2 separate regions of the Homo sapiens genome follow, and region 1 is linked to region 2. A link means that fine-mapping ties the variant in region 2 to the expression of a gene that starts in the linked region. Tissue or cell type: whole blood. Region 2 holds a variant in brackets; the other region holds the start of a gene. All regions are shown on one strand. Distances are from middle to middle. Region 1 holds the start of MAGI2-AS3 (MAGI2 antisense RNA 3). Region 2 has its middle 47 kb from the start of MAGI2.

The links.
Region 1: it holds the start of MAGI2-AS3, and the variant in region 2 is fine-mapped to the expression of MAGI2-AS3 in whole blood (INTERVAL, PIP above 0.99).

What each region holds. Positions count from the first base shown.
Region 1 is chr7:79,450,532-79,455,915 of GRCh38, forward strand. It overlaps MAGI2-AS3 (MAGI2 antisense RNA 3), which reads left to right and starts at 2,426. Exons shown (of 4, transcript NR_038346.1): 1 at 2,426-2,660; 2 at 3,056-3,124. It overlaps MAGI2 (membrane associated guanylate kinase, WW and PDZ domain containing 2), which reads right to left and starts at 3,136. Exons shown (of 22, transcript NM_012301.4): 1 at 2,489-3,136. The coding sequence starts at 2,789. RefSeq lists an enhancer at 1,582-1,876.
Region 2 is chr7:79,497,663-79,503,046 of GRCh38, forward strand. No RefSeq gene overlaps it. Among named protein-coding and RNA genes, the nearest start is that of MAGI2, 47 kb to the left of the region's middle. The variant C/CT (reference allele first, on the strand shown) is at 2,308.

The DNA of each region.
Region 1 (5,384 bases), 47 kb before region 2:
TCTCTGGCTATCATTATACAAATTTATCATCAATGAACCAGTGAAGCACGAAACTGAGGGTTAATATAGAATGAAAAGAGACTTTCCCCTCAATATATCACTTTAGAAGCATATATTCTGAGTTCTAAAAGCAATAATCTTCCACATAAAATTCAATACAAGAGTGATCTCCAACCACATTAGATCAAATTATGGCAAGATTCAAATAATATCTAATCCAGGTCCTCATCTTATATAGGAATCCCTGGCATATGGTCATTTCAGCCTCTTCATGGATACCCACAATGATGGGAACTTCAGCCAACAGGGTGCTCACAAATTTTTGGAAAACTCTGTTAGAAAGCTCATGATTTAATGAAAGTAAAGCTGCTTCATCCTTTCAAATTTCTCATAGATTTATCACCATTTTGTCCTGTGGGCTATCACAGGATAGTCAGAATTCCTTTTCTTACCTGATAGCTTTTCGCTATTTAATGATAGCTTTCATTCTTTCACTTCTCCACGTTAAGTCTTTCCACGGCATTTCATAGAATACATCTATAATACACAATAATCTTCCTTTATTTCTCTTTTGAACTTACTCTTTGCTAGCGTGACAGTTTGCCAACGTCCGCCTCAACAAGGAGTGCTCAGAATTGAACACAACATTTAAGATGTGATGATCATTGCAAACTATAATAGGGCATCCGTTTGTGGGACTCTATTAAGTCCAATTTAACAACGCTTAACTTTTGCAGCCACGTTCCATGACAAATATCAAGCATTTGGCCAACAAAACCATGGTCATTAGTTGTGTAGTAGACTTTTCGTACCCAAAGATCTTTCCATTTATGTCTATTCCTATAAGGTGGTATTTTGACATCGAACATGTTAACATGAATCTCTGTATTTGAACCTTAGGTATCTTATCTTCAAAAATATCAAGTTACTCTATTTTCCTTCCTACCAAACTCATATCCCTTCAGTGTTAAATAGTATGGAGCTATGTTGACTTATAATAACCTATCTCAATTTATTACCTCTTAATACTCAAGAATACCCAAGGAAAACATTTTCTTGTATGGCAATTTACATTTAAGAAACCTTGCCCAGTACTTCTTTTTATCTTGTTTATTTTAAAACAAGTTTTTTAGAGAATAATTTAACAGTGCGGTACATCTCCGTAAAAGCATTTCTTAGTAGTTGATCATGATTAAGCGGCAAAATGCAGGTAATGACATGCTCAATTCCACCTTTGAGTCAGGACAAACAGTGTACATCGACGACAACAACAAACCCTTATGCTAATATGCCTGTGACGCAAATATCCATACATACCGCACACGAATTGTGCAGTGAGCTAAAAAAGAAAACAGAAAAGAAAAAAGCTACTACTTTATTCTACTTAAAGTTGTCCTCTATTCAAACTTTTATCTCACTCTTCTCTCCTTCTGCACCATAATTTTCTTTCGAGCAAAGACAGGGAGTTCTGGATGATTCCAATCTCCCCAAATCCACATCACAGCCTCCAATTGAGGTTCATTTAAGTCAGGTTGGAGCTGAGGGAGCCTGGGCTGGAACCGGCCAGGGTTTCATCCAGCTCCTCCCCCAAAACACGCCCCCCAAATCGGAGCCAGAGGAGAGCCCAACCACAGAGGACTTCCACTCAATGAGGGCAACCCCTGAGTAAAGTCCATGCGGACAACCATTCATCTCCTCCGACAACCATTCATCTCCTCCGACCCCCGCCCAGCACTAGACTGCGCTCCTAGCACCGCGCCTTCTTCCGGAGCCTCCTCCCCCGGGCTGGCTAGGGGTGAGCGCAGGGGTTAGTCAGTACGCACGTGACGCGCGATGCCCACATGACACGACCGTGAGCGGGGGAGGGGGACACGGAGTGAAGAAGGGGAAAAGTTACAGAAGACCCGTCAAAGCGCCCAAAGCAATTTGTCCCTTCTTTTCTTCGCCAGCGGTGGCTCACGGATCCCTAAGGGACAGCTGGGGACCCAGGCGCCCCCAGCCCAGCCCCAGAAACGCTGGACGCAGTTCTCCGCTCACCCCACCACCTTCTCTTCCCAGACCCGCTGGTGATGCCGCTGCACCCTGAAGTTGCTCCTTCCTTCTTTCCCTCCCTTCCTCCCATTCTTTCTTTCTTTTCTTCCTTCCTCCCTTCCCCAAAAGCTCTTCATCCGCTTCGGGTGATGCCACTGACGCACATTCAATTTGCCCCAGCAGCTCTGAGGAGGTCAGACCAGGCCGAGCACCTTCCAAAGGGGAGGGTCTAACTGAGCAAACAAAGTTGCACGCCACACCACAACCTGCCCCTCCCCTCCCTTTAGCCCCCAAGTCGAATCCCCGGCGAAACTCACTTGCACTGCGGGTGCTCTCTGGCCCCCACCCCATCATCGCGCAACACACCCCCTTCAACATGCGCGGCCACCCTTTCATTGCCCTGCGCCCCGAGCGGTCCCACCGCCCGGCAAAACACTGAGCAAGCCGCTGCTCTCACCTTGCTTGACACACTTGAGCCGGAGGGGGTCCTTGCAGTGTTTGATCACGGCCAGCACGTCCCTGATGGTGAGCCCCGCCACGGGGGTCTCGTTCACCTCCAGCAGCAGCTCCTCCGACACCAATTTGCTGCCGCTCTCATAGGCCACCTTGCCGGGCTTCACCTCCCCCAGGTAGGGGAACTGTCCATTCTCGGCGCCCCCCTTCAGTTCAAAGCCCAGCTGGCCCTCCGGGTTCCTGCCAATGACACTCTCATGGACTTTGCTAGTCCAGTGGCTTTTCTTTTTCAAGCTTTTGGACATGGCAGTGGGGCGAGTCGCCTCAGTTCCTGGGCTCCTTGGGGTTAGGGGGGCTGGTGGTGAGAGAATGAGGATGGAGGAGCAAGGGGGCCCAGGGGGAAGAACAGCAGACTTTGCCTTCGCCCCCCTCTATTCGGTGCTTTCCCTCTTCTTTGGATGGAGTGTGGACGAGGAATGGGGAGGATGAGAGGGACGGCTGGGCAGAGGTAGGAGAGCTTGGATGAGGTTGTGCTGTCCCTTGAATGACACTCAAGGCTGTGGCCCCGCAGCAGAGGAAGCAGTGGTGGTGGCGTCGGCGGCGGCGGCGGCGGCAGCCGGAGCGAGCAGTAGCCGAGCTGGTGAGCGGGTGTGGTGGGGGTGGGGAAGGAGGGTAGGGATGCCGGGGGCCACTCCTGCGTGGTGCGAGTGGGAACGCGCGCGCGCGCCTGGGTGTGTGTTGTTAGCTGATATCCATGGCAGCTGCAGTGGCAGGGTGCGTGTGCGTGTGTGTGTGTGTGTGTGTGTGTACTAGTTCTACTGTACTGGCAGACGGGAGGAGGCAGGGGAGGAGGGGCGCGCGCGCCGGGTGGGGAGCCACGGAGGGCTTCGCCGCTGCCTCCCTCCCTCCCTCCGCAGCTTGACCCGGTAGTGAAGGCAGAGAGAGAGGCAGGCTGGGTCCGCCTGGCAGCCTACGGGAGGAGGCGGGAGCCGGGAAGGAGGGGAGCCTAGGCCCGGCGTGGGGAGGCCGGCAGGAAGGGCCTCGAGCCCAGTGCGGACCTTTCTTCAGCCTCTGTGCGACCGAGCCGCGCGCCAGGCTCCTGTGCGAGGAGGACGCGCTGACTCCCTCCGACCTGGGCTCCGATGGAGCAGAAATAGCGGGACCTGGACTTGTGGCGCGCCTGGTGCCACATCTCGGGCTCTGCGAGCGTCCTGGCGCGGGATCCTGCCGTGAGAAGGAGTTGGGGCGGGGGACCCGGCGGGGCATTGCGGGAGAAGGCCTGGGATCCCTGGGAGCCTTGTAGCGTGGGGGAGTTCACTGTGTAGAGAGGTTTCATGTCTTCATCTATATAGTCACTTATTTGTCTTAAAGTTCTCGAAATTCCCTCTTAGAGAAGGAGAAAGTTAGAGAACTGGAGGCTGCGTACCCTGATTACGCAGAAGGGAAGCAGCCTCGCATTCCCCGGGGCAGGCCCCCGCCCGCGCGTCCCGCCAGTAGGGGAATTTAGCGGACGGCTGCGGTTGTCTGGTGAAAGGCTATCCAAGGATAAGGGGCTTCACTTTTCCCAAGTAGGGGAAAGAGAAGGGGTCTACAGGGCTAGGGGTGGAGGGAGCGGATGCAGTGAGCAGCCTCCGCAGAGAAATTGACAATTTAACCAGGGACCTGCGGCAGAGACAAGGCGGAGACACTCCCTTGCCCAGGAAAGCCGCCAGAGTCCGGCTTGTACCTGGGGAAGAATCCTTAAGACGGTCTGGCCCAACACTCCTTTGCTCACAGAGAAAGGGGAGAAGACTCCCGAGGGTGAAAATGGTACATTCGGAGCTGGAACTCAGCTCGCTGACCCCAAGCAGTGTTCCCTTCTTTTCGCCAGGTTTGCATCCAAGAGAGGGGAGGACAGGGGCAAAAGGATGCAGGGAGGCTGCTGATTTCCACTGAAGAGCTAATTTCCTGTGAGACATTAACAGTGATTTAAGAAAAAGATTCCTGTAACTGGTAAATGAATTTCATTTGCTTAACTTTTAGATGATATGTTTCAGGCAAAAAAAAAGTTGTGCACCCACTTATCTCTTTAAAGCGGAGGATGAAAAGCATTGAATAGGTAGGATTCTTAATGTCTGAGATGAAGGCGATGTAGGAGGCAAACAATACGGTTAAAAATGTTGAGTCGACCCAAACAGAAAGACCAGGTTTCAATCCAGACTCTGCGGCTTACTGAGAATATGATCTTGAGTAAACTGCTTGACCTTCCTGAGCCTCAGCTTTCTTAGTTGTTAAATGGACTTTAACAATACTAATCTGTTAGGACTGTGGTGAGGATGAAATCAGGGAAATCAGTCACAGCAGTGCTCTCCTGGCACAGGTGAGTAGGAGTTCGAAATGATAATTCCCTCCTCTTTCCCTCTTAGGTATAACTTACTACTTGGGGATGAGGGGGATCAAATGTAGTCAGAACTGGAAGAGATCTTAAAAAAAGATGATTTGTTTAACCTTGTGTCTTTTTTTCACTTGAGAAAACAGATCCTCCGTAAGTTGGCTGCACTAGTTGAAGCTTATTCAGTGAGCCAGGGGCAGTGCCAGGATCTGAAGCCAGAGCTGCAGGCAATGCCCAGGAGTAGGCAAGACTTGATAGCAAAGCCTAATCTCACCCAGAGAAGTTGAGTGTTAGCATTATGAGGCATAGTTCTAAATGGAAACTCATCATGAGAACCGAATATATACATATTGTAAAACCAAATGACAAGCTACCATTCATGGAATATACTAATATTTATTAGGTTCTAACTACATGCAAGATGTTGTTTTATAGGCTTTACACATAATACTTAATTTCTCCTGACATTTTGATAAAATAGGTACTGTTATCTCCTTTTACAGGTAAGGAAACTGAGGTATACAAGGAT
Region 2 (5,384 bases):
ATTGCTTGCTATCCCTCCTTCCCTCCTACACTTCTCAGCCTCTAGTATCCACTGTTCTACTTTTTGTTTCTATGAGAACAACTTTTTTTAGCTTCCATATATGAATGAGAACATCCAGTGTTTAACTTTTTGTTCCTGGCTTATTTAACTTAACATAATGTCTTCCATTTCCATCTATGTTGGCGTGAATGACAGGATTTCATTCTCTTTTATGGATGAATAGTATTGCATTGTGTATATATACACCACATTTTCTTTATCTATTCATCTGTTGTTGGACGTCTAGGTTGATTCCATATCTTGGCTATTGTGAAGAGTGCTGCAATAAACGCAGAGGTACAGATGTCTCCCTGAAATACTGATTTCCTTTCACTTGGATAAATTCCCAGTAGTGGGACTACTGGATCATATGGTAGTTCTATTTGTAGTCTATTGGGGAAATTCCATATTGTTGTTCTCCATAGTGGCTATACTACTTTACATTTCCACCAACAGTGGATAAGAGTTCCCTTTTCTCCGTATTCTCACCAGCATTTATTTTTTTGTCTTTTTGAGAATAGCCATGAGATACAATGATATCTCATCATAGTTTTGATTTGCATTTATCTACTGACTAGTGATTTGGGGCATTTTTTCATATATTTGTTGGCCATTTGTATGTCTTTTTTTTTGAGAAATTTCTGTTCAGATAATTGCCCATATTTTAGTTTGATTTTTGTTTGTTTGTTTGTTTGTTTGTTTGTTTGCTTATAAGATGTTTGAGTTCCTTATATATGCTGGATATTAGATCCAAGTCAGATGAGTAATTTGCACATATGTTCTCTTATTCTGTAGGCTGTCTTTTCACTCTGTTGATTGTTTCCTGTGCAGAAACTTTTTAGTTTAATATAACCCTATTTGTTGTTGGGTTTTTATTTTTCACTTTTGTTACATGTGCTTTAGAAGTCATTCATAAAATCTTTTCCCATGTCAATGTGCTAAAGCATTTTCCATACATTTTCTTCTAGTAGTTTTATTGTTTCAGGTCTTACATTTACATCTTTGATTAATTTTGAGTTGATTTTTTGTATAGGGTGAGAGGTGGAGGTCTAGTGTCATTTTTCTGCATATAAATATCCAATTTTCACAACACCATTTTTTAGAGAGACTGTCCTCTCCCCAATGAGTGTTATTGGCACCTTTGTCAAAATGAGTTGGCTGTAAGTGCATGGGTTTATATTTGTGTCCTCCATTCGGTTACATTGGTCTATGTGTCTGTTTTTATGCCAATACTATACTGTTTCGCTTACTACAACTGTGTAGTATATTTCGAAGGCTGGTAGTGTAAGGCCTCCAGCTTTATTAATAATTTCTAAAAATCATCAAATATTGAGTCAACATTCAAATTTCTTCACATACCTGATAAAAGCTTTTTTCCTCCTCCCTCCCTTCTAATTTTTCTTCCTTCCTTCTTTCTTTCCTTCCTTCTTTCTTCTCTTCCTTCCTTTCTTCTTTCCTGAGACTGATGATTATATGCAGAAATTCATTCAAGATTTATAGATATAATCACATTTTTATGAAGTATACTCTATATGTGGAATACTGATATTAACATTCATTGATAATGTAGAAGATGCTTCTGATTCTGGGGCATCATAATAGCTTAACCAAGCTCTAATTTTAACCATTGATGCAACGGACAGTTCCATGAGAAATCAAACTCATTGGACCTGACAGCATCTTATGGCAAGCACACTGCCTAAATTTTCACCTGCTGTGAGTACCTTCCCTGAAGCTATAGGGCAAATGAGCCAGAGGTGCAGAGGGGTTAAACTCCAGAGCTTGGGGGATTGCCATACTTTAAATATACATACATATACATATATACACATATATACATGTATATATAAATATACATACATATACATATTTACATATATACATATACATATATATATAATTTTTTTTTGAGATGGAGTTTCGCTCTTGTTACCCAGGCTGGAGTGCAATGGCGTGATCTCGGCTTACTGCAACCTCCCCCTCCCAGGTTCTAGTGATTCTCCAGCCTCAGCCTCCCTCCAAACCTCATGTTAAAATTTGATTCCTAGTGTTGGATGTGGGGCCTAAGGGGAGGTGTTTGGCTCAAATGATGGATCCCTCATGAACGGCTTAGTGTCATCCTCATGATAATGAGTGCATTCTTGATTTGTAGGTTCCCACGAGAGCTGGTAATTAAAAAGAGCCTGACATCTCCCTCCTTTCTCTTGCTTGCTCTCTCATCATGTGATCTCTGCACACACCAGCTCCCTTCCCTTTCTTTTTTTTTTT[C/CT]TTTTTTTTTTTTTTGGAGACGGAGTCTCGCTCTGTCGCCCAGGCCGGACTGCGGACTGCAGTGGCGCAATCTCGGCTCACTGCAAGCTCCGCTTCCCGGGTTCACGCCATTCTCCTGCCTCAGCCTCCCCAGTAGCTGGGACTACAGGCGCCCGCCACCGCGCCCGGCTAATTTTTTGTATTTTTGGTAGAGACGGGGTTTCACCTTGTTAGCCAGGATGGTCTCGATCTCCTGACCTCATGATCCACCCGCCTCGGCCTCCCAAAGTGCTGGGATTACAGGCGTGAGCCACCGCGCCCGGCCCTCCCTTTCTGCCCTGAGTGGAAGCAGCCTGAATTTCTCACCATAATCAGATGCTGTCACCATGTTTCTTGTACAGCCTGTAGAATCATGAGCCAAATATTTTTTCCTTATGAATTACCCATGTTCAGGTTTTCCTTTGTAGCAACACAAAAACTAAGACAATGCCCCAATTCTCCTGTCTTTTGCCAGTGGGGGCTCATTCAAATTGGTTTTGAGTCCTTTTATTAAACAATTTTATTGCACGCAAAAGAATGCTCACACGTTACCTGTCCAGTTTAATGAGCCTGGACAAATGTAAAAATCCATGTAACTACTACCCAAGGCAGGATACGGCACATTCCTACCACCCCATAGACTCCCTCTGCCTCCTTAGAATTAGTCTGTTTTTACTTCAACCCCAAACAACACTTAATCTAATTTATAACACTAAAAATTATTTTTTCAGTACTAGAAATTCACTTAAGTGGAATTTTGCAGTATGTATTATTTTGTGTCAGTCTTCTTTCATTCAGCAAAAAGTTTTGAGATTCATTCATATTCTTTTGTGTAGGTAGTTCATTCTGTATTTATTGCTGAGTATTGTTGCACTGTATAAATATATCAAAGTTGGCTTCACAGTCACATAGTCTTCCATGATTAGGCATGCTATCTCTACCAGGTCCTAGCTGTACACCAAGGGGTGTTCCCAAAAGGCCTATAATTCAATGCTTCATATCCCATGACCTTGCTACAGGACCCCTATGATCTGAGTTATAGTTCTCTGATTGGGAAAAGTCATGAACTCCACATCATGTATTTTCCCACCAGTGATAACCTCTAATATCATGACATCTGCAGAGAGGCTTACATCACAGCCTGAAACCTTTTTTAAATTAACTTTCTATTTTGAGGTAATTGTAAATTAACATGAAATTGTAATAAATAATAGACATAGATCCTGTATACCTTTTGTACAGTTTCCCTCATTGGTGAGCTATTGCAAAATTATGGTAAAATAGAAAAATGAGGATATTGACATAGATTCACTCAAGATCAAGTATGTTTCCATCACCACAAGGATCCCTCATGTTGCCCTTTTAAACTCACATCCACTTTACTTCCACCTCCATCTCCTCCTTAACTCTTGTTTTCCTTTTCTGTAATTATGACATTTAAGTAATAATGTGTAAATGGAAACAGATATTATATGTTTGGAATTGGCTTTTTTCACTCCTTGTAATTCTCTGGAGATTTATCCAGGTTGTTGCATGTATTGATAGTCTTTCTTTTTATTGCTGGGTAGTATTCTATGATCTGATTATACCACAGCGTGCTTAATTATTTTGGAGGATATCTGGGTTGTTTCCAGATTTTGCCTATTACAAATAAAGGTGCAATGAGCATTCATATAAAGGTTTTTGTGTCAACATGAGTTTTAATTTCTCTGTGATAAATGCCCAAGAATTCAATTGGTAAATCATATGGTAGTTGCATGTTCAGTTCTTTAAGAAACTGCCATACTGTTTTCCAGACTGGCTGTAAAACTTTATATCCCAGTCTCTCTACATAGTTGTCAGCATATGGTGTTGTCACTATTTTTTTATTTTAGCCATTCTGATTGATGTATAGTGATATTTAATTTTGATTTTAATTTGTATTTCCATAATGACTAATGATATTGTGCATCTTTTCCTGTGCTTGTTTGCCATCTGTTTATCCCACTCTGTGAAATATCTGCTCATATCATCTTTTAACATGTCTTGACTATTGTTCCAGTACTTTCTAAAATGTTTGAGTATTTTCCTTTTCCTAACATGCAGTTACCAAAGTAAATGACTGCAGGTCCTTTTAGGAAAAGACTGAGACTGGTGACCATTTATACTTGTCATTATGAGAATTTTCAGGAGTATCAGCCTAGATACACCCATGATGCCTCAAGGTCCCATTGTTTCCCCAAAATGGTCTGAACCTTGAAATAGCATATATTTGCCATAATTGGGAGTTCATCCTTTGCAGCTAGGCTAATCTGATAATTAAATCTTGACTTTGTCCTGTGTTCACTTCTGGAAGATGAGAGCCTTCTTGTATACCACTAGGAGGCACTAAGGCTTTCACAGTTAGTTTTTTAATTGCTAATTAATCACACTTGCCTATATATTATCTTACTCAGAGTGAGCTTAGTAAAAACCATTCAATTCCACTATTCTTATAATTGCAGTTTCTCTCCGTATTTCTCCAGCAGCTTTACACTGTGCCAGCTAAGGCATTCACATCCTTTGGTATGCCACCCCAGTACTCCACGATTGTTTCAACAACTGTGCTGCCCAGTTGTGAAAGGGATTATCTGTACTCCACTTACAGATTGCCATGTGGTGGGGAGCAAAGCAGCTTCAAATTCCCATCCAAGTATGGCTTTCTTGAGTTACTCCTGGTACTACCTGTGCCAGGTTAGATTCTTAGGGAATCAGAATCTGTGATGGAGATTAGTATACAGGTGGTTTATTTAGGTTTTGGGGGATCAACACCTCTGGAGCGGAAGGGAAAGAAGCAAGATTTTCCAGAAAGAGAACAAGAACTCAATCCAGTCTCAACAGAAGCCTCAGTTGATCTTCTGGGGAGATGTGAAGATGGATTGACCCTCCAGAGATACTCTGATTGAGGGAAGGGAGACAGGTCTTTCTATGCCGCTTTTACCTGGGAAGGAGATATAACCATGGGTGACCTAGTTCTCTTCAGCCACCTGATGGAACAGATACTTGAGGATTATCTGCCAGACTTGCTCTTAGCATTTCAT